7 linked regions of the Homo sapiens genome follow. The protein of the gene in region 6 interacts with the protein of the main gene of each other region in a pairwise test. Each region holds a gene or a part of one and is shown on either strand. Other genes may lie near its edges. The genes, in order: SEPTIN1, CXCL14, TBC1D22B, LRCH2, SCAF8, TEX11 and FAM156B.

The links.
Region 1: the proteins of TEX11 (region 6) and SEPTIN1 interact in binary tests that used the Homo sapiens proteins (3 or more experiments, as listed by UniProt).
Region 2: the proteins of TEX11 (region 6) and CXCL14 interact in binary tests that used the Homo sapiens proteins (3 or more experiments, as listed by UniProt).
Region 3: the proteins of TEX11 (region 6) and TBC1D22B interact in binary tests that used the Homo sapiens proteins (3 or more experiments, as listed by UniProt).
Region 4: the proteins of TEX11 (region 6) and LRCH2 interact in binary tests that used the Homo sapiens proteins (3 or more experiments, as listed by UniProt).
Region 5: the proteins of TEX11 (region 6) and SCAF8 interact in binary tests that used the Homo sapiens proteins (3 or more experiments, as listed by UniProt).
Region 7: the proteins of TEX11 (region 6) and FAM156B interact in binary tests that used the Homo sapiens proteins (3 or more experiments, as listed by UniProt).

The regions. Positions count from the first base shown.
Region 1 is NC_000016.10:30,379,762-30,384,003, forward strand, and holds the start of SEPTIN1 (septin-1), read right to left. Parts: upstream 2,801-4,242; 5' UTR 2,782-2,800; coding exon 2,764-2,781; intron 2,605-2,763; coding exon 2,514-2,604; intron 2,419-2,513; coding exon 2,332-2,418; intron 2,123-2,331; coding exon 1,999-2,122; intron 1,713-1,998; coding exon 1,578-1,712; intron 1,484-1,577; coding exon 1,366-1,483; intron 273-1,365; coding exon 171-272; intron 1-170. UniProt on the Homo sapiens protein: Filament-forming cytoskeletal GTPase. May play a role in cytokinesis.
Region 2 is NC_000005.10:135,576,192-135,580,313, reverse strand, and holds the start of CXCL14 (C-X-C motif chemokine 14 precursor), read left to right. Parts: upstream 1-1,322; 5' UTR 1,323-1,535; coding exon 1,536-1,599; intron 1,600-1,774; coding exon 1,775-1,880; intron 1,881-4,122. UniProt on the Homo sapiens protein: Potent chemoattractant for neutrophils, and weaker for dendritic cells. Not chemotactic for T-cells, B-cells, monocytes, natural killer cells or granulocytes. Does not inhibit proliferation of myeloid progenitors in colony formation assays.
Region 3 is NC_000006.12:37,278,272-37,281,771, reverse strand, and holds part of TBC1D22B (TBC1 domain family member 22B), read right to left. Parts: intron 2,469-3,500; coding exon 2,161-2,468; intron 1-2,160. UniProt on the Homo sapiens protein: May act as a GTPase-activating protein for Rab family protein(s).
Region 4 is NC_000023.11:115,231,297-115,235,341, forward strand, and holds the start of LRCH2 (leucine-rich repeat and calponin homology domain-containing protein 2), read right to left. Parts: upstream 2,801-4,045; 5' UTR 2,746-2,800; coding exon 2,397-2,745; intron 1-2,396. UniProt on the Homo sapiens protein: May play a role in the organization of the cytoskeleton.
Region 5 is NC_000006.12:154,809,916-154,813,415, reverse strand, and holds part of SCAF8 (SR-related and CTD-associated factor 8), read right to left. Parts: intron 3,402-3,500; coding exon 3,208-3,401; intron 1-3,207. UniProt on the Homo sapiens protein: Anti-terminator protein required to prevent early mRNA termination during transcription. Together with SCAF4, acts by suppressing the use of early, alternative poly(A) sites, thereby preventing the accumulation of non-functional truncated proteins.
Region 6 is NC_000023.11:70,898,712-70,902,211, forward strand, and holds part of TEX11 (testis-expressed protein 11), read right to left. Parts: intron 1-3,500. UniProt on the Homo sapiens protein: Regulator of crossing-over during meiosis. Involved in initiation and/or maintenance of chromosome synapsis and formation of crossovers.
Region 7 is NC_000023.11:52,896,182-52,900,129, forward strand, and holds the start of FAM156B (protein FAM156A/FAM156B), read left to right. Parts: upstream 1-1,148; 5' UTR 1,149-3,360; intron 3,361-3,948.

The sequences.
Region 1 (4,242 bases), on a different chromosome or scaffold from region 6:
ACACCTGGCAAATTTGTGTATTTTTAGTAGAGGTGGGGTCTCGCCATGTTGCCCAGGCTGGTCTGGAACTCCTGACCTCAGGGGATCCTCCCGTCTCAGCCTCCCAAAGTGCTGGGATTACAGACGTGAGCCACCGTGCCCGGCCTGCCTTCCTTCTTTGTTTCCCACACCTTCATCTCTGCATCCTGCCTCTTGAAGTCTTCATCTTCATCAGAGTCACATTCGGGGAACTGGTAGATGTGGATCTCCTCTTCCTTCAACTGATCCCGGATCTCAGGGGAAACAGATATAGAGACAGTGTGAAACGGGCCACAATGACAGACATTTCATGACCAGAGACAGTGAGACACAGAGATACTGGGTGGTCAGAGACAGAGAGAAAGACATGAAAGACAGAGATGGGGAGAGATGGACATACAGGAAGACAAAAACAAAATCTCAGAGACATAGATGGTGAGAAACACAAGATTCTAAGATGGGGCAGACATTAAGAGACCAGGAGAAGCCTGGGCAATATAGCTAGATCCCATCTCTACAACAAATATACACATATATTTTGAAACAAGGTTTCACTCTATCACCCAGGCTGGAGTCCAGTGGCTCCATCTTGGTTCACTGCAGCCTCAACCTCTCAGGCTCAGGTGATCCTCCCATCTCAGCCTCCTGAGTAACTGGGACTACAAGTGCACACCACCACACCTGGCTGGTTTTTGTACTTTTTGTAGAGATGGGGTTTTACCATGTTGCCGTGGCTTGTCTTAAACTCTTCAGCTCAAGCAGTCCACTGACCTCAGCCTCCCAAAGTGCTGGGATTAACAGGTGTCTGCCACCAAGCCCAGCCAAAAAAATATTTTTTAAGTTAGCCAGGCATGGTGGTGTTCATCTATAGTCCCTGCTACTCAAGAGGCTGAGGCAGGAGGATCACTTGCGCCTACAAGTTCGAGGCTGCAGTGAGCTCTGATCTTGCCACTGTACTGCAGCCTGGGCCACAGAGTGAGACTCTATCTAAAAAAAAAAAGAGAGAGAAAGAGAGGCCGAGAGAGATATAAGCAGAAACAGTGGGAAAGGGCTCTGAAGACACGGGGTGGGGGCCAGAGGGAAGTCACTATGTTCTCATGTCTATGCTCCTGCCCTCAAATAGGCCTCAGCCAGGCATCTAGCCCGGGGGCTGCATATGTAGCCTATTTTGAGCCTTCAGAGACATGGCTATGCTGGCGGCTTACCACCCGCCTTCCTCAGAAGCTTCTCCTACAATCTAGCCTGATGCACCATGCTCCAGAAAGGCCACTTCAAGATCAAAGAAGTCTAAGCTGAAATCAGGTTTGGCTTCACATGGGGTCAAAGGTCAGAGGTCATCACTCACACCTTCTGCTTGAGGGCCTGGGTTTCCTGGGGCATCAGAGCATCCGCTTTGCCAATGACTGGGATGATGTTGACTTTCTCGTGTACTGCCCGGAGGAAGGCCACATCTAGGGGCCGGAGCCTGCACCCAGGGATTGGTCATTGCCCAGCCTCAGGGGGCAGAGACCCCCCAGCCCTCCCTAAATGCGCCAGCCCCCAGGATCCCCCCACCAGACCCCCGGCCGAAGGGTGAGATGAAGTAGAGGCAGCAGTGGACTCGGGAGTCCTGGATGTTCTTCCGGTTCAGGCCACTCTCATCCCTAAGGTACTGCTCAAATTGCTCCTCGATGAATTTCACCACCGGAAGCCAGCTGGGTGTGGGGAGAGGATGTGAGGTCAGAGATCAAAGGCCAGAGGGCAGGGGGCAAGGCTAGCCAGGACTGTGGGAGTAGAATGTCATTTCTTTGGCTCCCTCCAAAGACATTAAGGGGAACTGGTGGGGGCCTAGGTGAGTCATCAAGAAGCACAGGGACCCAGTGGCCCTCTGAAACAGACACCACCTTTTGAGATAGGGAGCCAGCACAAACCAGTCCTGTAACTCTCCAGGGAGTCGCCACTGTGAAAGGCTGAGCCTCTGTCCCCTTTCCTCTTCCTCACCAGTCAGAGCAGTCCACTGAGTCCCCAAAGCCAGGTGTGTCCACAAGGGTCAGCTTCACTTTCACACCCCCTTCCTCAATCTCTACGCCCCGGCGCTCAATGGCCAGGGTCTGTGTCAAGCGAGCTGTGGGATGGGGGAGAGGTCAGGGATCCGGGGAGGCTCTGAGGCAGAATTAATTTCCTTTGTCAATATCACAGTTGCCTGCACCCATTTCCCAGGGGAGGAAAGTCTCAGAAAAAAAGCAGTCAACTACCTGAGTCCCCAGATGGAAAAGACTAGGGTGTAACCTGGGGACAGGGGCTACTGCCTCAAGAGGGTGGGGAGGGTCTTACCACTGGCCTCTGGCACCTGGCGATCCTCATAGAGGTTGGTGAGGAAGAGGCTGTTGATGAGGGTGGATTTCCCTAGGCCTGACTCCCCTGTGGACAGAACAGGCCCAACTGGTCAGGGGAGGGGACAGCCAGGGCCTCCTAAGGACATCCCCTCCGCAGTTCCCTCTCCAAAACCCCCAGACCTGCCACCATTAGCGTGAAGTCAAACCCCTTCTTGACAGACTTGCGGTGCAGCTGGTTGGGGAGGGCAGCAAAACCCACGTACTCCTTGTCCTATGGATGGGGGTGGACAATATGAGGCTGCTGGCAATGGCAGGCAGGGTCCCCAGGATCACTTGAGTTCCTGGGCTAGGAAGAGTCAGTGGGGTCTGGGGACCCCAGGCATGGGGGCTGGGGGCCGAGATGCCCAGGTTTCTGGGTGTAAGGACTCACCATGACTCCGCCAGCCATCACTGCACCTGCCGTCTCTCCCCACTTCCTCTGGTGGGGCAGGAAGCTGAGTGCGGCTAACAAGGGGGCGGGCAGAAGAGGCAGCTGAGATGCTCAAACTGGCCCAGTCCCAGAGAGGTGGGGAAGGCCAAGGCCAAGAACACTTGGGGTTGCCACCTCCTGGACCCCTTTGCCCATCACCTGTCTACGTACCTTCAACCCTCCATCCTTCACACATCTGGATTCCAAGTCCCACTGTAGCTCCATCATCGTGGTGAGACATGGGGTATGTGCAGAGAGGAAGGAAGTGGCTCCCTTTGTTAGCAGGGGAGATGAAGGTTTTGATGAGCTGATTAGAAAACAGTTCCCAGGACGGGCAAGGTGGCTCTCGCCTGTAATCTCAGCACTTTGGGAGGCGGAGGAGGGAGGACAGCTTGAGCCAAGGAGTTCCAGACCAGCCTGGGCAACAGAGGGACGTGCCCCTCTACCATCTCTACAAAACATTAAAAAATTAGCCAGGCATGTTGGTACAATCCTGTAGTCCCAGCTACTGGGGAGGCTGAGGTGGGAGGATTGCATGAGCCCAGAAGATCAAGACTGCAGTGAGCTGTGATCACACCACTACACTCCAGCCTGAGCAACACAGCAAAACCCTGTTTCTTTTTCTTTCTTTCTTTCTTTTTTTGAGACGGAGTCTCGCTCTGTTGCCCAGGCTGGAGTGTAGTGGCGCCATCTCGGCTCACTGCAAGCTCCACCTCCCGGGTTCCCGCCATTCTCCTGCCTCAGCCTCCCGAGTAGCTGGGACTACAGGCACCTGCTACCGCGCCTGGCTAATTTTTTTGTGTTTTTAGTAGAGACGAGATTTCACCGTGTTAGCCAGGATGGTTTCGATCTCCTGACCTCGTGATCTGCCCGCCTCGGCCTCCCAAACTGCTGGGATTACGGGCGTGAGCCACCATGCCAGGCCAACGCTGTTTCAAAAAAAGAAAAAGAAAAAAGTGGACCAGAAGCCATGATGGGATTGGGAGTGGGTGAAGCCATACATTTTCCAGCTCAGACAATGGATTCATAAAAGGACTCCAGGTCTTTGGACACCACTGCCCGAGAGATTTTCCTTCAGAATCCTGGCCAAAGAACTCCACTGCTCAAAATCCTTCAGGAACTCCCCAGTAACTCAGAGTCAAGTCTGAATTCTGGCCTGACTGCCAAAGCCTCCCTCAGCTGGCCTCATCACCCCATCTCTCACTCTTCCAAACGTCCTTGGCTCTCTACCCACATTGAGCTTTTCCTTTTTCTGAATCAGTTAAACTCTTCCTCATCCTTCAAGTGTTTCTTTCCAAGGGCTCTGCCTCTATGCAATCTCTCCACCTACCCTAGGCAGGGTCATTGTCCCTCCTTCAGATTCCCAGCACCTGGCTGGCGTGGTGGCTCACACCTGTAATCCCAGCACTTTGGGAGGCCGAGGCGGGTGGATCACTTGAG
Region 2 (4,122 bases), on a different chromosome or scaffold from region 6:
CTCAAGGCAGCAAGAAGTGAAGGGCAGACAGGCCTCAAAGCAACAGAGTGGTCCAGGGACAGGAGTCCCAGTTCTGCAGCCGTATATACTGAGGACCCTCCTGGCCTAGTCACCTGCTTCCTAGCTCTGTGACCTTGGACAAGTTATTTCTTCTCTCAGAGCATGTTTCCACACCTGTCAAATAAAGAAATTAAAAGTACCAACTTGGAAGAAAAGTACCAATTGGTAAGAATCAAAGTAATAGATAAATTAGACATAAAACGATGGTGCCAATAAGTAACATTTCCTGGGTACTGACAACATGTATGATTTCTATAGTTCTCACAGCCACCCTATCAGAAACACTGTGATGATCTGCACTTTACAGATGATGAAACAAAAGCTGAGAGCGGTAAAGTCACTTGTGCTGGAAAGTAGTGAGGAGGGAATTTCTGCCACTATGGCTGGGCTCACACCACTATACCTCGCATTCTGGCACAATGTCTAGAACATGGGAAGGCCTTCATCCAGATGGTTACCACTGTCATCGCTCTCCACTAGGGCTCTCTACCTGGCTTTGGAGAGTAGTGTGAGAGTGAGGACTCCTCCTGGTTCTCCCCACCACCCAGACACTCACACAGCCACCAGGCCACTGACCCACTTTAAGGAGCTTTCCTTTGGGAGTCACCAAAACTCCTCCCCAATACCCGTCCCCACCCCCGCATACACACACATACCCTCTTTGAGTCAGTTCCAGTGATCACAGTCAATGACTTTGCTGCTGGACAGTCTATGACAAGCCCCTGTCCAGAACTGGCCTTGTGTTCTGGCCCAGCAGGGGCCCTTGGGGGTCAGGCCTGCAGGCACTCACACTTGGCACCTGCTCCAAAACCCTTTCAGGTCTTTGAGGATCTGAGCCCTGGGCCTGGGTCTCCCGCCGGCTCGGAAAAGCTGGCCTGCCGGGCCAGAGAGAGAACCACACGATTCAGAAAAGCAGTGCCCTTCAGCAGCCTCTCCACCGTCTGGGCTCCCCAAAGGCAGAGCGGGACGCTGGAAATGTGTGCGCGCTGTGGTATGGGTGTGCAAGTGTGCGAAGGCGGCGTGTTGTGTGAGCGAGAGGGTAGCGGATGTGTGTGTGCGTGTGCGCGCGTGGCTCCGGGTGTGCGCCGCTGCGATAGCGGGTCCTTTCCCGGGGCGGGCGACGGGCGGGCTGGGAAGGTCTCCTCCCCTCACCACATTGAGAAATCTCAGTGAGTCACCGAGTGGTTCTGCATATTAATGAGCTCGCTCGCTGCGAGGGCAGGAGCGGATTTAAAAGAGGCCAGGGCGGGCGGAGGGAGGCTGTGGAGAGAGCGCGGAGACAAGCGCAGAGCGCAGCGCACGGCCACAGACAGCCCTGGGCATCCACCGACGGCGCAGCCGGAGCCAGCAGAGCCGGAAGGCGCGCCCCGGGCAGAGAAAGCCGAGCAGAGCTGGGTGGCGTCTCCGGGCCGCCGCTCCGACGGGCCAGCGCCCTCCCCATGTCCCTGCTCCCACGCCGCGCCCCTCCGGTCAGCATGAGGCTCCTGGCGGCCGCGCTGCTCCTGCTGCTGCTGGCGCTGTACACCGCGCGTGTGGACGGTGAGTGCGGGGAGCTCCCCTTGTCGCCGTCTCGTCTTGTCCTGTCCTGGGGAACCCAAGCGCCAATTTCTAGGCATCCTGGGATCCCGCGGGGGGTGGTCTGGGTGGGCACCAAGGTGGTCGAGGGGCAGGAGACCGCCTAGCAACTAAGCCGTTGCCCCGCGCTCGCTCGCAGGGTCCAAATGCAAGTGCTCCCGGAAGGGACCCAAGATCCGCTACAGCGACGTGAAGAAGCTGGAAATGAAGCCAAAGTACCCGCACTGCGAGGAGAAGATGGTTATGTGAGTTCTCGCTCCTCACCTTGAGGGGGTGCGCACTGCTGTCAACCCAATGCCAGGGCACAGCCTGGGCCTGGGTCGGGCTAACAAACATTTCTCTCCGACTTTGTCAAGGCCCTGGAAAAGCCTTTGTAATTGCCCAGAGAGTCCTTAGGACGCTGGCGAGACACTCTGGAAGACAGTCGGGAAGGGGGGTCACTGTCCCGCTCCGGAACAGCGCCTCCAAGTTCACCCTTGCTAGGATTCAAATGAGCAGTCTCCCTATTTGTACCATGGGCCACCCACTCTGCTAGGGCCATCAAGGGTTAAAGGGTTCCCTTGTGCCAACTCAGAAAACCTAGACTGAAATCACTTAAAACACACTCACACCCAAACTGTGAGGCGTGCTGCCTTCCTGTCACTGGATAGAGGACTAATGCAAACACTATCTTAAATCCTGAGTCTCCTTCAGAGCCTTGTTCCAGTCAGAGACAAGTGGACCGCAAGTTTTTGGCTCCTAGAGATTTTATTTTGAGAACGCTCCACGAGCTTCCCTCACCGACTGTACTCCTTGTGGGTCCCCAATACGGAGCAGTACTGCAGAAAGTGCTCTGCTGGGGTTAATGTGCCACATGGCTGGAGCCCTGCTTGGTGGGGATGTGGGGAATGTTGGAAAAACTGGGGCAGAGTGAGAGAACACTTAGTTTCTTGCTCCTCCGCCTTCCCAATTAACCACTTGAGGCCAGCACCGCTGCCTCCTCATCAATATGCTCTTGGCCAGGAAGGGAGCCCTTGGCAAAGCGGCTACCAAATATTTGCCACAGACCATTGGCCCCTCTTCCCCTCCCCCAGAAACAGGACGCACTTTATTCTCAGTCTGGGCAAGTGCCCTCCACCAGCTGGCCCCCACCGGCGCAAAGGCCTTCACAGTGTCTGCGAAAGCAGTGCACACCCCTACCCAGCACCCCCCATCCCCGTCTAGGGGCTACACTGTCAGGCTGAAATTAGGGGAATTCAGAAATCCACTGGAACTGAGCTGACCCCACTGCCTTCCTTCACAGACACCTAAATTAACTTGCTTGTCCCTACCCCTTGCCTTGCAGACCAAATTCAAAGAAAATACCCAAAAATCCTTTTGGGTGGGGGCCAAGTGTCAAATGAGCTGGGAAAGGAGCTCCAAGCTCCTCAGGGCTTCCAGTTTGGGGGCTAAGAATGACAGGGGAATTCCAAGTTAAATCTCACTCGTCTAAGAGCTGAAAACCACTCTATTAACCAAACAAGTTTCTGAGACCTTGCAGGGGAAGAAAGCAGGGTAAAGGATGCAGTGATACCTAAAAAGGACAGAGCCCTCAGTAAATAGGCTTGCTCTTTTCCTGGCTAAACTTTTCCACATATAGAGAAAAACTATAGCTAGGCAAGTGTGAGAAAGGCTTTACGGAGCCTTGTAGAAACGTGCAGGGGCCTCAGGAGATCAGCACACAATCCAATCACCCTCTACTAAACCTCTAACCCACCCCCTAGGGCCTCCCACTCCATCCCTGAGGGCTGGGGGCTCCTCTCCCCCTCCACAATCCTAAAACTCTCCAAATCAGATGAGGGGCCAGCACTTTTGCAAAGCAGGTTTTCAGCCACAAAGGCTGAACAAAAGCAAATTTTCCAGCTTACCCTGAGTCACCCAGAAATCTCTGCTGAGGCTGGGGGTGGGGGCAGGAGTAGGGGCGGGGGGAGAGGTCCGCTTTGCAAGTGGGAGTCCTTGCACCCAGAAGGATCCAGGAGAGTCCGAATTCTAGAAAGAGCAATTTGTGTCATAGGTCCATGGAGCTCTCACCAAAACCCTTACCCCCACCGCCAGAACTGTGGAGGAGAGGGTCACAGGACTCAGAATTTCTGATAGTTGCTGGAGTCACAAATCCCTATGTCTGCACTCCACAACCGATTTTCATAATCCCAGTATTATGACGTGGCATTTGAGCACTGTAGTGAGAGGGCTGAGTGACCCTTCCTGCTCTCCCTTCCTGCTCTCCCTGACCTTCAGGATTTGGGATGCACAGCCTGCACACTGACCTAACTGAGAAAGGGTTTTTATCAGGCATTACCACGTCCTTTCCTTCAGAATGCTAAAGCAGCCTTGTAGGCAGAAAGAGAAAAGCATTTGCTAAATTCCTGCAGGGTGACTGGGCACAGTGGGGGAGAGAGACAACCAGAGTTCACTCTGAAGCCTGGCCTGTGCTCAAGGCTAGAGGAATGACCCGGAGTCACAGAGGAG
Region 3 (3,500 bases), on a different chromosome or scaffold from region 6:
TAGTTTAGTCTAAGGCAGTGTTTTCCTTCCCATTCCACACCACAGAGCACATAAGGAATGATGACACTGCAGATGACACCACAAAGCACAAGGCTGCAATAAATGGAGGTGGTTGCTCTCCACAAGCCCCAGAACCCCCAGCTGCTCCAAGGACTAAAAGGATCAATATCCCCGCACATCCTGTACCCGGTTCTTGGCCCACCAGTGTGCCCTGCACAATGGTGAGAAGCTCTGGCCTAAGGCAATCCTGCCTTTGGTGGCTGCGGTTCCTTTGTGCTCCTACATTTCCCACCAAAATCAACCAGTTCTTAATTCTGCCAAGATATGACTGAAATAACAAACAAAGACTCAAACTGAACTCTGTCTTGTTCTTGACATTTCTACACTAGATAGTGGGTAGGGGGAATAAGCAGTAGAGGACTCACGTATATTGAGTGCTTCATATGTATAAGGCATATAGGTCACTTTTACATATGATCTCTCATTTGATCCTTAGAACATATGGTAGGAATGTATAACTATTTTACAGACAAGAAACTGCAGCTCAGGGAGGTTAAATAACTTGCAAGTGAGAAGTGAAAAACCACCTTAGGTAAGCCTGACTCTAAAACTCTTGTATTACCACAAGCAAAACTCAGTTTTTAATTCTAGCTGTGCTTACATGACTGTTTCATATTCTTTACACGGCTGGGCCTTAAAAAGTAGTAGTCACAACAAAAATTAAACAGTGACTATCAACCAACCAGCACTACTAGAAGGTTTACAAAAACAACTTCCACGAGGCAGTTGGCTGGGATGCCTAGTGTAACGAGGGGACTAGAAAATGCAGACACACACTGCAAAGCTGAGACAGAGGTAAATTTCATATTACCTATTTACAGACAGATGCAGTGACTATCAACCAACCAGCACTACTAGAAGGTTTACAAAAACAACTTCCATGAGGCAGTTGGCTGGGACGCCTAGTGTAACAAGGGGACTAGAAAATGCAGACACACACTGCAAAGCTGAGACAGAGGTAAATCTCATATTACCTATTTACAGACAGATGCCGGCAGGAGAAAACCTCCTCAGGGAGAATGCTCTGGGCTGGGCGGGGGAGGTCCTGGCTGCACAGGGCAGCTCATCATGGATCACGGTAGGGGCCTTCCTCACACTGGAAACCTCTGGAGACCCTCCATCACAGTGTGTAGACACCTTCCACGGCCTGCAGCTGTGGCCACCTGGTCCAGTAACACTGAATGCCTATCTGTGCATGGCACTGAAGGTTCATGCTAGAGCCCAAATCAGTGATGGAAAATAACTGTGCAATGATTGCAAAGACCTTACAGCCACGAAAAAGTTCCCTCAGAACATGAGCCAGGGTACACTCCAGGGCTCTGATGTTCTTCTACTTCCTTTTCATCCTGTACCAGCTCACTGCTTTAACTCTCACTGCGATGACAAAGCTTCCCTCTCCAGCTCCCAACATACTTTATAAAACCCATTAGGGCAACATTAAACATAACCATGAATATTTAAAGGAATACACTGAGAGTCCCCAAAAGCTAATAAAACCACCAACACATCAACCATTACTGTGGCCAGTTTCCCGAAAAGAAACAGAGAGGCCTCTACTTCTACCCCACCCAACCTGATGGGACCTGCCTGATGGTCAGGAAGCTGGGACCTGGGGCCTTTAGGCACATTTGCTCCCTCCCTCAGGAACAGGAAAAGACAACCTTATGCTAGTGGCTGTTCCCTAGGGCTGAGAAAGTCAAACCACAGTGCCAAACAATTGTGAAATTCAGCCACTAACAGCTTTAAATACATCAGTTACTATTTCTAAACCTGACCAGGCCTAAAGCAATGTGAAGCAATCAAACCAGAGAAGTTGTGGACTCCACCACAGGGAAAGGAAGAAGAGAAGAGGAGAATGGCAAACAACACCTGGGTGTCAGAGAGTGAAGGCCCAGGTCACCAGACTGGGCAGCCACCACTGTGGGAGGGGCAAGTATAGCTTGTGACCACTCAGGCTTAATGATGTCACATCTCAGGCTTGAGTTTATTTACCGCCCAGTTGAATATCTACCTGAGTGAGGCCCCAAAGAAAAATCGCTTTTATTTAAAATGCACGCTGCTGAGAAGGCTGAGGCTATGAAGGGAGCAGGAAGGACTTACTAGAGTTTCTGGACAGCTGGGCATCACTGCTGGACTTTATGACCTTGTAGTTGGCAGGGACGTCCGATGTCGTTGACTGGGACCGTTCTGGTTTTACTCTCAGCTTGCTGTGGTTTTCTAGAACTTGGGCTGCAGTTGCCAAAGCAACTTTTGAGTTCAGAGTTTGGAAAGAAGGTGAGGAAAAGTCCTCTTCCTCATCATCGCCAATGTCCCAAGCATCACTGGTATTCCGTGCAAACTCATGAAAACTGGAGGCCTTCTTATTCTTCAGAGGAACTGTGTTGACTTTTGATCGTTCTTTAATGAAACTTCAAGAAAGGAGACACGATTACCAAGGAATGGCCTGACACATCTGACCACCTACATTTGCTTATTATTGTAATATTAATAAATTACAAACTACCACATACATAATCATTAGCTTCTTCAAACAAAAATTGCCCACATCCATTCTTCATCTAGATACATCCAGACCAGCCTGAGATCGCAGAGACAGATGTAGCAGAGACAGCAATGGTCACCAAATATCCCATGTGCTCTTGTATACTTCCTGGCCCCCATACACTTAGGTGAGGCCATATGACCAATACCGGCCAATGGACTGAGGAGAAATGAGGCGATTACTTCCAGGCAAAGTAGAGAATAGGTGTCAGTTCTGTATAACCTCTCTCTTTTTTTTTTTTGAGACAGAGTTTCTGTCACCTAGGCTGGAGTGCAGTGGTATGATCATGGCTCTCTGCAGCCTTGACCTCCTGGGCTCAAGTGATCCTCCCACCACAGCCTCTTGAGTAGCTGGGACTACAGGTGTACACCACGATGCCTGGCTAATTTTATTATTATTTTTTGTAGACACAAGGTTTCACTATGTTGCCCAGGCTGGTCTTGAACTCCTGGGTTCAAGTGATCCTCCCACCTCGGCCTCCCAAATCGTTGGGGTTACAGGTGTGAGCCACCATGCCTGATCCATAGCTTTTCTTCTATCATGATGCACTGGCAAGATGGTAGAACCTCCTTCAGCCTAGGTAACTGAGTGGCTATGTGGAGCAGCAGTAACTATGTCGAGGAGCCTGCCCTCTGCCCTTACCCCACCCCCATTTTAGACATGTAGCATGAGCAGGAAATAAACCTTTACTATGTTAATCCACAGAGATTTGACAGTTGATCTGCTATCACTTAGAGCAGCACATAAACTACTGGCAGAAAACAAGATAATTTTAGGTAGTCCACATATGTAGCATTAAACATTAAGTCCCAAAATAAAAAAGTTGTTCCATTTTTTATTCTGTTAAAAGTTCTTCTGCTGGCCTTGAGAAGAAAGTTGAAGTTTGGTGCTACTCTGT
Region 4 (4,045 bases), about 44 Mb from region 6:
GTGTGTTCCTGTATGTATGTGTGTGTATGTATGTACATATGTATGTATAATCTCAAACACACTCTATTTTTCTTCAGTTCCAATGTACCTGCCGTCATTTACACATAATGAATAGTGGTCTCTCTACATTAAAAAATACTGCCCCTAAAAATTTCGTGGCTAAATTTTATCAAAAACAAATGGCAAATGAGTCACCCAAAGATATCTAATTTAAATGAAAAAAAAGAGCAGCACAAGATCTTGTTTACTCTGATTTTTGAAATGTTCCCACAAGAAATGCTCATTCAACTGAAGAGAAAAAGTAAAATGAAACTTATGATGAATGAATGTTTACCATGAACAGATATGGTTCTGCTTTGTGTTGAAGCTTGCCTCAGAAAACCAACTGAAGGCTTAAAAGCCAAAGGCTGTAACTGCATCAGATGATATTCATATTTATGAGAAATATTATCAAATACAATAAAGGGGATATATAATAAGAAGACTGAACAAGTATATGGCTTACACCCTGCCTTTTAAGGGGCTCTATTTCTTCTCAGGGATAGCAAGACAGAAACATAAAAAGAAAATAAAACCAGCACTGCCAAGTAAGTGGTAAAGACAATAAGTACCATGGGAATTCAAAGAAACAGGAGATTCTTGTGGACTAAGGGAGTTGGAGACAATTTCTTGGAAGAGCTGGGGCTTCAATAAAATTAAATAGACGGAGAAAAGAGGGAAATCCCAAGCATACAGATGATCTTGTACAAAGATGAGGCAGAAATGCACAAAATGTATTTGAGAGACAGAGAGTTGACCTAGTTGGAAGAGAGGATTCTATGTGGGAGCATTTTGGGGAATAAGGTTGCAACAATAAAGTGGAGCCCAACAATGAAAGTCCTGAATGCCAAGCTAGGATGCTTAAACTTTGTCCTGCAGGTAGAAGGATCCTTTATAGGTTAGAAAGAACAATAAGAAAAAAAAAAAAAAGAGGAAGAAGAAGAAAAGAAAAAAATCACTATAATGATGCAGTCTGAAACTGTTTTACTTGAAGCCTTTGAAGAACACACCAAGTTGCATAATATCTTGCTAACAGTCATGAATATGTGAACATATTATTTAGGAAATCTGTTCTGAGTGAAGGAGTAAATACTCCAACATGCTTTACAAAATATAAAATCAGTGGTCGATTACACATTCATAGTTCTTAGGATCATTGCTAAAAGAATCACTGGGTGGAAAGCTTCAATTTTAGGTTTTCCTCCTCTCCCCACTTTGTTCCAACACAAATACCTTGATTTAAGATCTAAAAACTGAATACATCTGAAATTGTCTTGTTTTGAAAATAAGTGGTATTTTACTACTCCTCATTATGGGTGAATTTACTTACTATATTGTTTCAAAATGACGACATCTATTAAAATAATTTTGTCCAGATTTATTTCAGCAAAGCAGATGAAAACAGAAATAAATAACAAATTTAAAGATTATAAAAAGTAAAAAAAAACCTTTCATCAAATCAAGACATATCTAAAATAATCCAGCATTGGTTTATAAGAGAGTGTGTCCCTAACAAAAAATGCCAGCCACAACAAAGACTACCAGAGAGTATATGAAGAACATTACAATAGCCAATTTCTCACCCAAAGTGATAAACCTTTAATCCACAACTCCATAAAGAATGGAGATAATTTTTTCTCAAAAATACCCTTAAAATTGTTGGCTTTCTACTATAAAAATTAAGACTCTAAGATAACTCAAAACAAGGATTAGCTTTCTTCTAGTAAGCAGACATGTAAGTGATTGATGATTTAATTTACCACTGCAGCAAATACTAATTTAACCACCACTACCTTCTCAACACCAGGAAAATGAAAAATCTCAGTCTTTAAAGGCATACGTGACAAGAAAGAAGCCAAGAATATCGTAGGATGATTAAACCACACAGAAAAACCATGGCAATCCTGCTGCTGTACTCTGAAAAAGGATATGCCATTCTTTCAGGCACGTATGCCTTTAAGGAATATGTAGAGATTATGATTTTTGTGTTTCGTTTAGTTTGGTTGGGTTTGGTTTTCCGGGAAAGACGGGAAGATCCAGGAGAGTTGAAAGAAGTGCATTAAGGAAGGTGTCAATGACTCCCTCCCACCCAAACTGGGGAAACTTGCTTTAACAATGATGCTCTTTCACCCCTAACATCCTACCAGTTTCTATACATCCTTCAGGCAGCATTCCTCCCCTCCCCTATTGCTTGATTCGCCCCTCACGTTCAGGAGAACGGGCTGCCCCGACTTTGTTAGTCTGGCGGTCCCCGCGCACCCGCCCAGACCCGCAGAGTCCAACAACGCAGCCACGCAGCCACCCACTCCCCGCACCTCCTCCTTCACAGCCAGCTTCCCCTCCCCCCGTCCTGTCACCTGCTTGGGTGGTGTCCGTCAGGTCGTAGCCGCTGCCCGGGAAGTCTCGGAGTTTCCGACCACTGAGGCTCAGGATGCCGGAGCTGCCCGCCTCTTCCAGGGCCCGGTCCAGGCTCCTCACGGTGTGCTGAGGCTGCAGGCTCCCCGGGTTCCACGGCGGCCCGTTGGGGAACGGCTGACCGAAAAGAGTCGGTACCGGGATGGGGACCACCAGGGTCCCGCCGCCGCCGCCGCCTCCCCCTCCAGCCCCGCCACCTCCCCCTCCAGCCGTGCCACAGCCACCGCTACTTCCACCTCCACCACAACCGCCGCCCCCACTGTTACCGCCTCCTCCCTGACTCGCCGCCATGTTCCTGGGAGAGAGAATAGCCCCCGACAATACTGTCAGCCTGTGCCGCGAGTGTAAGGGGTTCTTAGGACGCATGCGCAGACTGGGGGCGGGGGGTGGGGGGCGAGGTAGAGAGTGGGAAGGAACCAGGGGGCGGGCTGGGAGGAGGTGTTGGATAGAGAAAAGATGATGTTTGAAAGTGCAGAACGCTTGCTTTAAGAAATGTATGATAAGAAGGATGCTAAATCCCGGTTCTGCTGCTTTGGGTACCAAAGTCTTGCGAAACGACACCAGGCGAACTATAGGTCATCTGGGCTGTATGTCCCCAACTCTCTAAGTTGCTTCACTGTTTCCGTTCTGCAAAACAGAAACAAATATATGAGCTAGGGATGAAAGGGATTCGTTTCAGAATATACAGAAACAGCACTTAGAAGGGCTATGGGGCAGCTTATTGAGAAGCTTACTGCAAATGCCTCAGGAATCCTTTACCAGTGTTAGAGAAACGCTGGGGAGTCACTTGGGGAGGGAAATGAGTGCAGTGTTGAGTTTGGGGCATATATGAATTTCTCCATAGTTTAGAATTCTATAATAGGAAAAGATTTGTAAAATGTTTTCAAGGAAGCCTCTCGTTTCAATGTATGTAAGTCTCAGCCAGACTGTTGCCTTCCAAAACTTGGAAGAGTTATCCACATTCTGTTCTATCACTCTTTGAAGTTGTGCCAAGATCTCCAAAATACCTCTAGTTTCTTCTCATCGTGTCAGTACTGCCTGATGAAAATCTCTTTGATCATCAAACAATCTTAAGTTATTTCTGAAATACAGGTTTTGTTTTTAGATGGAATTCTGAAGATTTAACCCTGGGTATTATGAAGCCAATCGATCTTGAATTTTAGGAGTTCATTCTCAGAACCTGAAGATATTTTTAATGTAGAAGACATAGAGAAGAAAGTTCAAAGTCCTTTATCTGGCATTCCAGGCCTCCATAATTTAACCCCAGACTATCTAGCCGAGTTTATCACCCAACCATTTAGGCCACTGCCATCCCTTTACCCACTACCCTCTCCACTCTCAATCATAGTCATTCAAATCTTTTTCTCTAGTATTCAGTAAAGTTGATGAAGAAAACTATCAGAATGCTTGGACATATTCACTTATCATTGAGTATCCTATGTATCTCTTTTACACCTATTTCAATTTGAGCAATGTGTCAACAGCCTCATTTTTTAAGAGAAATCTCCACTTCAAAAAAGTATATCTGCCATAGGCTCTACTTTATAAAAGATTACAGGAAAGAATTACAACTTGTCTAAATTGATTTGTG
Region 5 (3,500 bases), on a different chromosome or scaffold from region 6:
ACAAAAGCTGAAACTATAGGCACACCATCACCATGCTTGGCTAAGTTTTTATTTTTAGTACAGACATGGTTTTGCTCTTCCCAGGCTGGTCTCAAATTCCTGGCCTCAAGCAATCCTCCCGCCTTGGCCTTCCAAAGTACTGGGATTATAGGTTTGAGCCAGTATACTCAGCCTTAAGGATTCTTCTGTTTTTTGTTTTGTTTTGTTTTGATATAGGGTCTTGCTCTGTTCCTCAGGTTGGAGTGCAGTGGCACAATCATATCCCACTGCAGCTTCTCAACCTCCTAGGCACAAGTGATTCTCCCACCTCTTTCTTGAGTAGCTGGGACTACAGAAGTGTGAACCACCTTGCCGAACTAATTTTTTTTTTTTTTTTGGCGGTAGTGATGGCATCTCACTTTGTTGCTCAGGCTGGTCTTAAACTCCTGGCCTCAAACAATCTGCTGGCCTGTGCCTCCCAAAGTAGCTTGGATTACAGGTGTGAGCCGCTGCACCTGGCATTCTCTTTTTCCTCTTTATTACTGGTTCTGCATATTCCAGCTGCCTTAATCTCCCTGAACTCTGTTCTGTATTTCCCATCTCTTTCAATATTATCTCTCTACACATTTTTCCCATAGGAAACTCCATTATTTTCCCCAGAAAGCATTAATGATTCTTGTCATCCCATGCAGAAGGGACACTTGATTCCTGGAATGTTATTATTCACTGGTGCTTTATATCCCCTAGACTATTCACGAAAACCTTATGTTCTAAAATCCATGCTAAAGACCAATAAATCGTATGAAAACACTACCATATGTTTAAAATGTGTTAAGAAAGAATACAAACCACAGGAAATTGATACTGCTTTTGAATAAGGAGAGTTGTGAGGTAAACAATCAGAGATTATTTTTCACTGTATAGGCATACCTTGGAGCTACTGCAACTTTGGTTCCAGACCACCACAATAAAGCAGATATCACAGTAAGGTTAAGGCACATAAGTTGTTCTTCCCAGTGCACACAAAAGATATGTTTACACTACACTGTAACCTATTAAGTGTGCAACAGCATTATGTCTAAAAACAAAAATGTACATACCCTAATTTTAAAATACTTTTTGCAAAAAAAAAAAAAAAAAAAAAGCTGACATAGAGACAAAGTAGGCACCTGCTATTGGAAAAATAGTGCCAAGAGAGGTACTCAACATAGGGTGGTCACAACCCTTCAACCTATTTAAAAAAAAAAAAAAAAAAAAAAAGGCAGTATCTTCAAAGCACAATGGAGTGAAGTGCAATAAAACAAGGTATGCCTGTATTTGGTTATGCGTTTTTTATTCACGTGCTTTTTATTTTCTTTTTTGCTGTTTGTTGTGCCCATGAAAATAAAACAGAAATAAAAAATAAATTCCACAGTTAAAAACTATGTAAACAGCACACGTATTTACTGCGGCACTACTCACAGTAGCAAAGATTTGGAACCAATCCAAATGTCCATCAATGATAGACTGGATTAAGAAAATGTGGCACATATACACTATGGAATACTATGCAGCCATAAAAAAGGATGAGTTCATGTCCTTTGCAGGGACATGAATGAAGCTGGAAACTACCATTCTCAGCAAACTATCACAAGGACAGAAAACCAAACACTACATGTTCTCACTCATAGGTGAGAATTGAACAATGAGAACACTTGGACACAGGGCGGGGAGCATCACACACTGGGGTCTGTCAGGGGGATGGGGGGTTGGGGGAAGGGTAGCATTAGGAGAAATACCTAATGTAAACGACAAGTTGATGTGTGCAGCAAACCAACATAGTACATGTATACCTATGTAACAGACCTGCACTTTGTACACAAGTACCCTAGAACTTAAAGTATAATTTAAAAAAAAGAAAAAACTTAGATGACGGGTTGATGGGTGCAGCAAACCACCATGGCACCTGTGTACCTATGTAACAAACCTGCACGTTCAGCACATGTATCCCAGAACTTAAAGGAAAATGAAATAGAAAATTAAATGGTTAAAAAAAAAAAAACTGTGTAAACAGTGAAATCAACAACATGACAAATTAAGTGAGAAATTAAATGAGAGCGACTCCATATAAAATCCTTACTCTAATAATGGCAAATAAATAGATAATTCTGAACGTCTTAATGGTAATCATGCGAGAAAGCACAGTAGAGATTTTTGTGGTTAAACGTTTGACATTATTTCTTTTATCAGCCAGCACTAAAATGTTTAGATGTATACCATCACCCTAAGGGACAAACAAACTTCTAGAGCAAGGATAATCAATATTATCAGGTTGACACTAGCTCTCACAACCAGGTAAAATTCATGCAAGATAGCCAAGGCCTACAAGAACTCCCAAAACTTAGTAAGAAGATGGCTATTGCCTTTTATTATAGGCCTGGGTTTCCAAGACGCTCTAGTAGCACAAATTATACCAATTATTTTTCTAACTCCCTGGCAGAGGGAATTTACGTGGAAGTCTTCAGAAATTAGATAACACAATCAATGTTTAGCTCTTTGGAAAGAATGACAATTTGTTCGATTTTATGTACTTCTTTGCCCATATGTAAACTCTTAGTTCATCTTAAAAGTCATAACCCACCAAGAATACCCTAGGCAAAATTTGGCACTAATTAAAACTTATTTTGCTGTGCTTAACATTCCTACCAAGTGAACCCTCCCCACACCTGCTCCAAAACCAAACCCCACCACTACCGAATCTGTTCTAATCATACGTAATTGACTAACATGTAACCGTGCAAGGTTTGTACAGTAGGAATTATCCTGTAGTGCTAACCCATTAACATTATAATTACTTTAAAAATTAGATATAGCTAAGTATATGCTTCCTTTAATAATTATTCCTACAGACCTGGTGGCCATAATTGCTAAGAATACTATAGACAGAAGTCACTGTGTCCATGCTACAGATACCAGCCTAGTCTGCTTTTTCAGTCAATATGTATTTTCTAACTTGCATTTGAAAAACAAACAAAAAATCAACCCTCAATGACCTTGGTATTTGAATGGAATCTGTTCTTCCTTCTTCTTCTCTTCTCTATCATGTTACAAAAACCAGAGACATTACTCATTTACCAAACCACTTTTAACCTTAATCTGAAAATAAAATTTGGCTGAGAGACTTTGTAGCAGATAACTATTTTTTAAATATTAATTGAAACCAAAGCGTTGCAGATATATGTTACTTACCACTTAGTGTTTTAGATCTAATTGGAGGTAATCCCTTTTTCTGTCGTTCTTTCTCCCTTTCTCTGGCTCTCCTTTCACTTGAATACGACCGTGATGATTTCCTCTTTCTTTCTCTTGAGCGGGAGCGTGATCGCTTTCTGTGTTTACGCTTTCTAGAGCCAGACCGTGACCTAGACCTTCGTTTTCTTGGTGATCTACAAAAAATTTTCATTTTACTTCTAATGACAATGTTTTCTTTCTACCAAATCTGTCACTTCTAAGTGAGGGAAAAAACAATAACAAAAAAGTTGTCT
Region 6 (3,500 bases):
TCTCCTGCCTCAGCCTCCCGAGTAGCTGGGACTACAGGTGCCCGCCAGCACACTCAGCTAATTTTTTGTATTTTTAGTAGAGACGGGGTTTCACAGTGTTAGCCAGGATGGTCTCGATCTCCTGACCTCATGATCCACCAGCCTCGGCCTCCCAAAGTGCTGGGATTACAGGCGTGAGCCACGGCACCCGGCCATAAACTGTACTATTCCCCCTAATAGGTGCATACCAGGTGGCATCAGTGATTATCTCACTGATTATCTGTAAGATTTCTGTACAGGCTGTAAAATAAGTATGCTCATGATTCTAAACTATGTGGCCCTGTCTTGGGATATTTCCTAATAACTCTGTCATTCTTAATCTGAGGATCCCATTGTTGTATTTAAAGGAAAAGATAGTTCAGGGAAGATTACAAATAAAGTCCTTTGAGATTCAATGAAAGCCAATTATCTTGACTGAGTTTTACTACTAAACTTTTTAGTCTAGATCTGCACTCTCTAATATGGTAGCAATATATGGCTACTGAGCACTTAAAATGTGGCTAGTTCAAATTGGGATGTGCTTTAATTGTAAAATACACATGGGTTTCAAAGACTTAGTTTAAAATAAGAAAGTAAAATATCTCAGCAATTTTGTATACTGATTATATGCTGGAACAAAAATGTATGAATATGCTGGGCTATAGCATTAAAATTATTATTATATTAAAAATTAATTTCACCTATTTATTTTTACTTTTTAAACGTGATTACTAGAAAATTTTAAGTTACATTTCTAACTCACATTATATTTCTACTGGACAGGGCTGGTATTGAGTATACATTGGAACTATATTCTGAAGACTTGATGAAACAAATTAGCTAATGTCTACCTCCCTAACAATCATCATAAATATAATAGAAAAAGAAAATATAGAGGCTGGGCACCGTGGCTCACACCTGTAATCCCAGCACCTCCTGTAATCTGGAGGCCGAGGCAAGCAGATCACTTGAGCTCAGGAGTTCAAGACCAGCCTGGGCAACATGGCAAAATCCAGTCTTTACAAAACATACAAATATTAGCCAGGCGTGGTGGTGCATACCTATACGTTCATGCCACTGCACTCCAGCCTGGGTGACAAAGAGAGGTCCTGTATTAAAAAAAAAAAAAAAAAAAAAAAAAGGACCAGGTGTGGTGGCTCATGCCTGTAATCTCAGCATTTTGGGAGGCTGAGGCAGGCAGCTCACCTGAGGTCAGGAGTTTCACCATGTTGGCCAGAACAGCCTGGCCAACATGGTGAAACCCGGTCTCTACTAAAAATATTTTTTTAAAAATAGCCAGGAGTGGTGGTGCACGCCTGTAATCCCAGCTACTTGGGAGGCTGAGGCACGAGAATCACTTAAACTTGGGAGGCAGAGGTTGCAATGAGCCGAGATGGTGCAACTGCACTCCAGCCTGGGCAACAGAGTGAGGCTCTGTCTCAAAACAAACAAAAAATTAATTAATTAATTAGTTAAAATAAAAATACAAAAATTAGCCAAGTGTGATGGTGGGTGCCTGTAATCCCAGCTACTTGGGAGGCTGAGGCAGGAGAATCGCTTGAACCCGGGAGGCGGAGGTTGCAGGGTCACAGTGAACAGAGATCGTGCCACTGCGCTCCAGCCTGGGCTACAGAGGGAGACTCTATCTCAAAAAAAAAAAAAAAAAAAGAAGAAGAAGAAGAAAATTGAAAATTTTCTTGAAACAAATGATAATGGAAACACAGCATACCAAAACGTATGGGATACAGAGTGAAGTTTATCACTATGAGTGCCTACATCAAAAAAGAGGAAAAACTCCGAACAACCTAATGATGCATCTTAAACAACTAGAAAAGCAAAAGCAAACCAAACCCAAAGTTAGTTGAAGAAAAGAAATAATAAAGACCAGAATAGAAATAAACGAAATTAAAATGAAAATATATATATATAAAAGATCAGTGAAGCCCAGTAGTGGTGACTCATGCCTATAATCCCAGCAGTTTGGGAGGCTGAGGTGGGTGGATCACTTGAGGCCAGGAGTTCGAGAGCAGCCTGGCCATCACAGCAAAACCCTGTCTCTACTAAAAATACAGAAATTAGCCTGGCATGCCTGCAGTCATAGCTACTCAGGAGGCTGAAGCACAAGAATTGCTTGCGCCTGGGAGGTGGAGGTTGCAGTGAGCTGAGATTATGCCACTGCACTCCAGCCTGGGCAATGGAGTGAGACTCTGCCTCAAAAAAAGAAAGAAAGAAAAATCTAGAAAAAAGGCCAGTAGGCAGGCAGATCGCTTGAGCTCAGGAGCTCAGGAGACCAGCCTGGGAAACATGGTGAAACCCTGTCTCTACCAAAAATACAAAAATTAGTCAGGAATGGTGGCGCATGCCTATATTCCCTCAGGAAACTGAGGCGGGAGGATCGCTTGAACCTAGGAGGATAGCGCCACTGCACTACAGCCTGGCAATAGAGTGAGACCTTGTCTAAATAAATAAATAAATACTTAAAAAAGACTGAGGGATTTGGGGGGCAAAAAGTTCAAAATGAATAACTAGCGTGGTATGAAAGAAAGAAAAAGCAAATTCAGTCTTAGCTATATTATTATCTAAAGAGAAAAATCATCAGTCCTAAATCTAAAGAGAAAGATTACAGGCGTGCATCACTTAAGGACAGGGATACATTCCAGAAATGTGTAATTTGGTGATTTTTGTCATTGTCCCAACATCATAGAGCAGTGGTCCTCAACCTTCTTGGCACCAGGGACCAGTTTTGTAGAAGACAATTTTTCCACGGATGGTGGGGGGATGGTTTCGGGATGAAACTGTTCTACCTCAGATCAACAGGCATTAGTTAGATTTTCATAAGGAGCATGCAACCTAGATCCCTCGTGTGGGCAGTTCAGGCTCCTGTGAGAATCTAATGCCACTGGCCACTGATCTGACAGGAGGCGGAGCTCAGGCGGTAATGCTTGCTGGCCCAGGGCTCATCTCCTGCTGTGCAGCCAGGTTCCTAACAGGCCAGAGACAGGTAATGGTCCGTGGCCCAGGGGTTGAGGACCCCGTCATAGAGTGTACTTACACAAGATGGTATAGCCTACTACACATCTAGGCTATATGGTATAGCCTATTGCTTCTAGGCTACAAACCTATAACTCATGTTACTGTAGTGAATACTGCAGGCAACTGTAACACAATGATAAGTATTTGTGTATTTAAACATATCTAAACCTAGAAAAGGTAAGTAAAAATATAAAAGATTAAAAATGACTGGGTACGGTGGCTCACAGCTGTAATCCTAGCACTTCGGGACACCGAGGAAGGAGGATCGCTTGAGCCCAGGAGTTCGAAACCAACCTGGGCAACATAGGGAGATCCCGTCTCCACAGAAAAATTAAAAATTATCTGGGCATGGTGGTGCATGCCTGTGATTCCCGGCTACTCAAGATGTTGAGGTGGGAGGATTACTTGGGCCCAGGAGGTAGAAGCTGTGGTGAGCCACGATCACACCA
Region 7 (3,948 bases), about 18 Mb from region 6:
AAAAGTTAAAAAAAATTAATTGGTTATAGAAGCAGTTACAAAAAATAAACAGTTCCAGGTGCAGGGGCTTAAACTATGATTAAGAGATAAATGCAGGGGCTTTTAGGTACCTTCCACCGAGCACATTCCCGAGCTGTTGGTACAGCCTGCCTCAATATCTTACCAGCAGGTGTATTCTTGGATGTGCTTGGACTCAGCTTGCACTAGTTATTCCCTTAAGGGGGATAAAGGGGGCTGCAAGTGAAGAAACTAAAATGGAGTCTGTCCGGCTCTCTCTGCTAGGAAAGAGTCACTCAGGTTAAAACAAGGTAGGGTATCACAAATGATTCACTTAGACGGGAAGTCTGTCCTCCTAAAAGTAGCTAGGCACAGAGAGAAACATTCCCTGTTCAGCTGGCTGAGACTTCCGCTGATTAAAAAAAAAACAAAAAACCCTGCCCCATAAATCTCCCCACTGAAACCGGTGTACTCCTTCCTATGAAAGTAAAAGACACCCCCGCCCCGCCCCGGTTACCCCAACAGTGTGATTTCCACTTCTGGGGCGCTCTCCCTAAGGCAGTAGCCTGAATAATTTCAATGTATTGGATTGTTTGGTTTCTGTCTTTACCAAGGTGCATTTATCATTCATGCAAAAACAGTAAAAAAAAAAAAAAAAAAAAAAAAAAAAATGAAACAGCACGTGTCGGTTCTCAGCGGCGCGCCCTAGCTCAAAACTCCAGCCAATCACAGGAGAAGTCGGCCGCCTCCCAACCCTCCAGCCCAGTTCCCACGTCCCTCGCCCGGGAAGTCACGTCCGCTACAGGGAGTGTCTTCCCATGGCCTCCGGAAGCATTCGGCAGTCCACAAGCCACGCTTCAGAGAAGCCGCTCCGGGAACGCCGCGGCGCACCTCCGGAAGGGATGACCTCCACGCCTTCTCCCCTCGCAGTCCACCCGAGCGGCGTGGGTCGCGAGAAGCCACCCAACCGCTCCGTCTTCCGGCTCCGGCGGTCCGCGGCAGCCAATCAAAGGTTCAGTTTCTCAGCGGCGTCGCATCCCTGTGACGTGAGCACATCCTCGCCGGCGCCCCCTTCCGCGCTGCGGCGCCTCTAGCCCGCCGGAGGGCGGCTCCTCTCGATGGTCTTAACCCTTCAATTACGAGCGGGCGGCGCTGCGTTTCCAGGGCAGAGGAAACGAGGCGCCGCGTTGGCGCTTGGACGGCGGGAACCGGCTCCGGAGCGAGAACGCGCGTGAGAGAGCCCGAGAGAGACGGAGAGCGAGCGAGCGCGCGGGAGAGACTGAGAGCGGGGGGGTGGGAGAGAGACTTCCAGAGAGACAGAGCGAGAGGCCGAGACGGAGGCTGTCCCTAGCACAGGCCAGGGTGTCTTGGGACTCGAATCCCTGGGTTGGGCTGGCCGGGAGTGGGGCTTTCGAAGGAAGCGGGTGATTTTCCACGTCGTCCATATCTCCCCGGTGTGGGAATGGCGGTCGTGCACTCTGGGGGTGGCGTTGTTCTCGTTCCCTACTTGGGGGTGGCCTTTTTCAGCGGAGAAAGAGGATGCCGCGGGCATTGGTAGCCGGCGGGACTACACTTGGGCTAGGATCAGTGTTCAGCGGGTTCAGAAATCACCGTGTCCTTGGCATCACCTCCCTCCCCACCTCCTCTCCCATCGCACAGCAGGAGACAGTGACTGGAGGGTTTTCAAGGAGGACTGCATTGCCCCTATTGAAACAAACCGTCCGACAAACCCTTTCTCCGACGTGTGACAGAGGGACGGTCGTAATGTGAAATACGACTAGACATGCGTTTAATGGGCGGTGTGATTGCTGCATTCGTGCGCAATGAATGGTCCAGGCCATTTGTGTCCAGTAGCCGCACAAGCTGCAGGGTCTCATGTTTAGAGAGGGAGGGCCTCTCCGCCGTCCACCTTGCTGGAGTACAGGCGACCCTGGGCGGTAGCCCTCTCCGCCATCAGAAATGTGGTGCTCTGAGTAGCCACAGATTCCCATCTGCATCTCCAATACCATTTCCCTCTACTCACTGACCCGTTGGGTGCGTTGGATTTGTGCGTGGGTGTGAGGGTAGTTTGGTGTGTTTGCTTGCAAATGGAAAAGCGAATGGCCTTGGTTGGCTGAGCTTATCAGGGCACTAGCAGTGGAGAGAGAAAGGACTACTGTATTCTTAGGAGCAGAATCTCAACAACTTCCTATAAAACGGGCAGTGTGTCTTACCTGGAATGCTTTGGCATTTAATAAAATGTCCTGTGAATACTTTTCATAGGGAAGCACTTTGTTTTTACTGTTTCTGGTTGGACAGTGGTTACATTTCAAATCGTAGTTCAGAATTCGTGAAATACCCAAATTAAATCTCTACGTGGCAGTAATCCATTTTCTTTCCTTGGTGTGTGGTTGGAAGATTAATTTGAGATAAGTGTTCAGTTCTGGGCTGGGCAGTCGTGCCGGGCACGGGAAATTCAGGTTCTTTAAGGGAAAGGCCTGATGTGCTAAGACGAAATCTATACCGTGTGTAGCCGCTTATGAGAATATGAAACTAAGGAGAGCCACAGGTAAGTATACGTCTATGAATGCGAATTAAAACGGGTGACAATATAAAGAGAGATTGGTGTCACAAATGGTGGAGTGACTTTTGTATTTCAGCAGACCTCAGTGAGAAATGGTCACCACCACTCCCTAGATGTGTGACCTTGAGTGAGTTGCTTAACCTCTCTGATCCTGTTACCTCATCTGCAACTGGGGATGAGAATATATATCATAGCATGCCCTGGGAGAAGCTGTTCCTGACCACCTGGGCTATGGTGATTTTGACTTCCTCTGTGTCAGAAGTACCCCCGTCTCATGCCTGCCATAGTTGTCTTTTTGTTTTGTTTTGTGATTTCAGATGGACTCACCCTGTCACCCAGGTTGGACTGCACTGGCCTCAACCTCCTGAGTTCAAGTGATCGTCCCACCTCAGCCTCCCCAGTAGCTGGGACCATAGCTGTGCAGCATCATGCCTGGCTAATTTTTTAAGTTTTTTGTTGAGATGGTGGTCTCGCCCTGTTGCTCAGGCTGGCCTCAAACTCCTGGGCTGAAGCAGTCCTCCCACCTCAGCCTCCCAAAGTGCTTGGATTAGAGGCGTGAGCCACCATTCCTGGCTCCTTGGACAATATTTTATTCCTCAGATTAAGACACGTCCTTGGGATGGGGCTGCATTGGATAATTCACCGAAGGCACCGCTGAATGGAGTGGGCCCTCAGTAAATACCTGGAGGAATGTGACCTGGCCAGTGAGGTTATTTTCTTTTGTAGGTGAAAGGTGTAGCAGTCACTCGGCCTACACCCACAGCATCGACCTTGTGAACCCAGCGACCTGACTGCCTTGGGTGAGTCTAGGCAAGCTCCATTCTCGCCAGAGCGGACTTGCTCCTTGTCTTCCTCTTGCTGCTCTGGCCACTCTTCTTGGTCCCTCCCCTGTTCCCTCCCCGGACTCCCGGTTGTACTCCCGCTGCTTTTCTGTGTACTCACCTGCTGGGAGACCCCTGATGCCAGCACCACGCTTCACTGCTGTCTTCATTTTCTTCTTTCTTTCTTGAAAGTGGGCATTGCTGGCTTTACTGACTACCTGTTCTTTTGTTACAAAGCTGCTAAAAATTGTATCTCTTCCGCTCCAGACCCAGTAGGATAGAGATGATCTGTGTAGGCATCAAAAATGTAGAACATCTGCAAGTCATGTGTAGGACAGACTCTTTCCTCAATCTGTGTGGCGTTGCGTGGCTAGGAGTTAGATTCCTTTGCCATGACATGGCACAAGACTAGGAGCACGGTTTTCAGCACCCAGAGAACTTGCACAGACCTTAGACATTTTGCTGTAGGATTTTGCCACTTCTAGAAAAAAGTCCATGTGGCCGGGCGTGGTGGCTCACGCCTGTAATCTCAGCACTTTGGGAAGCCGACGTGGGCAGATCACAAGG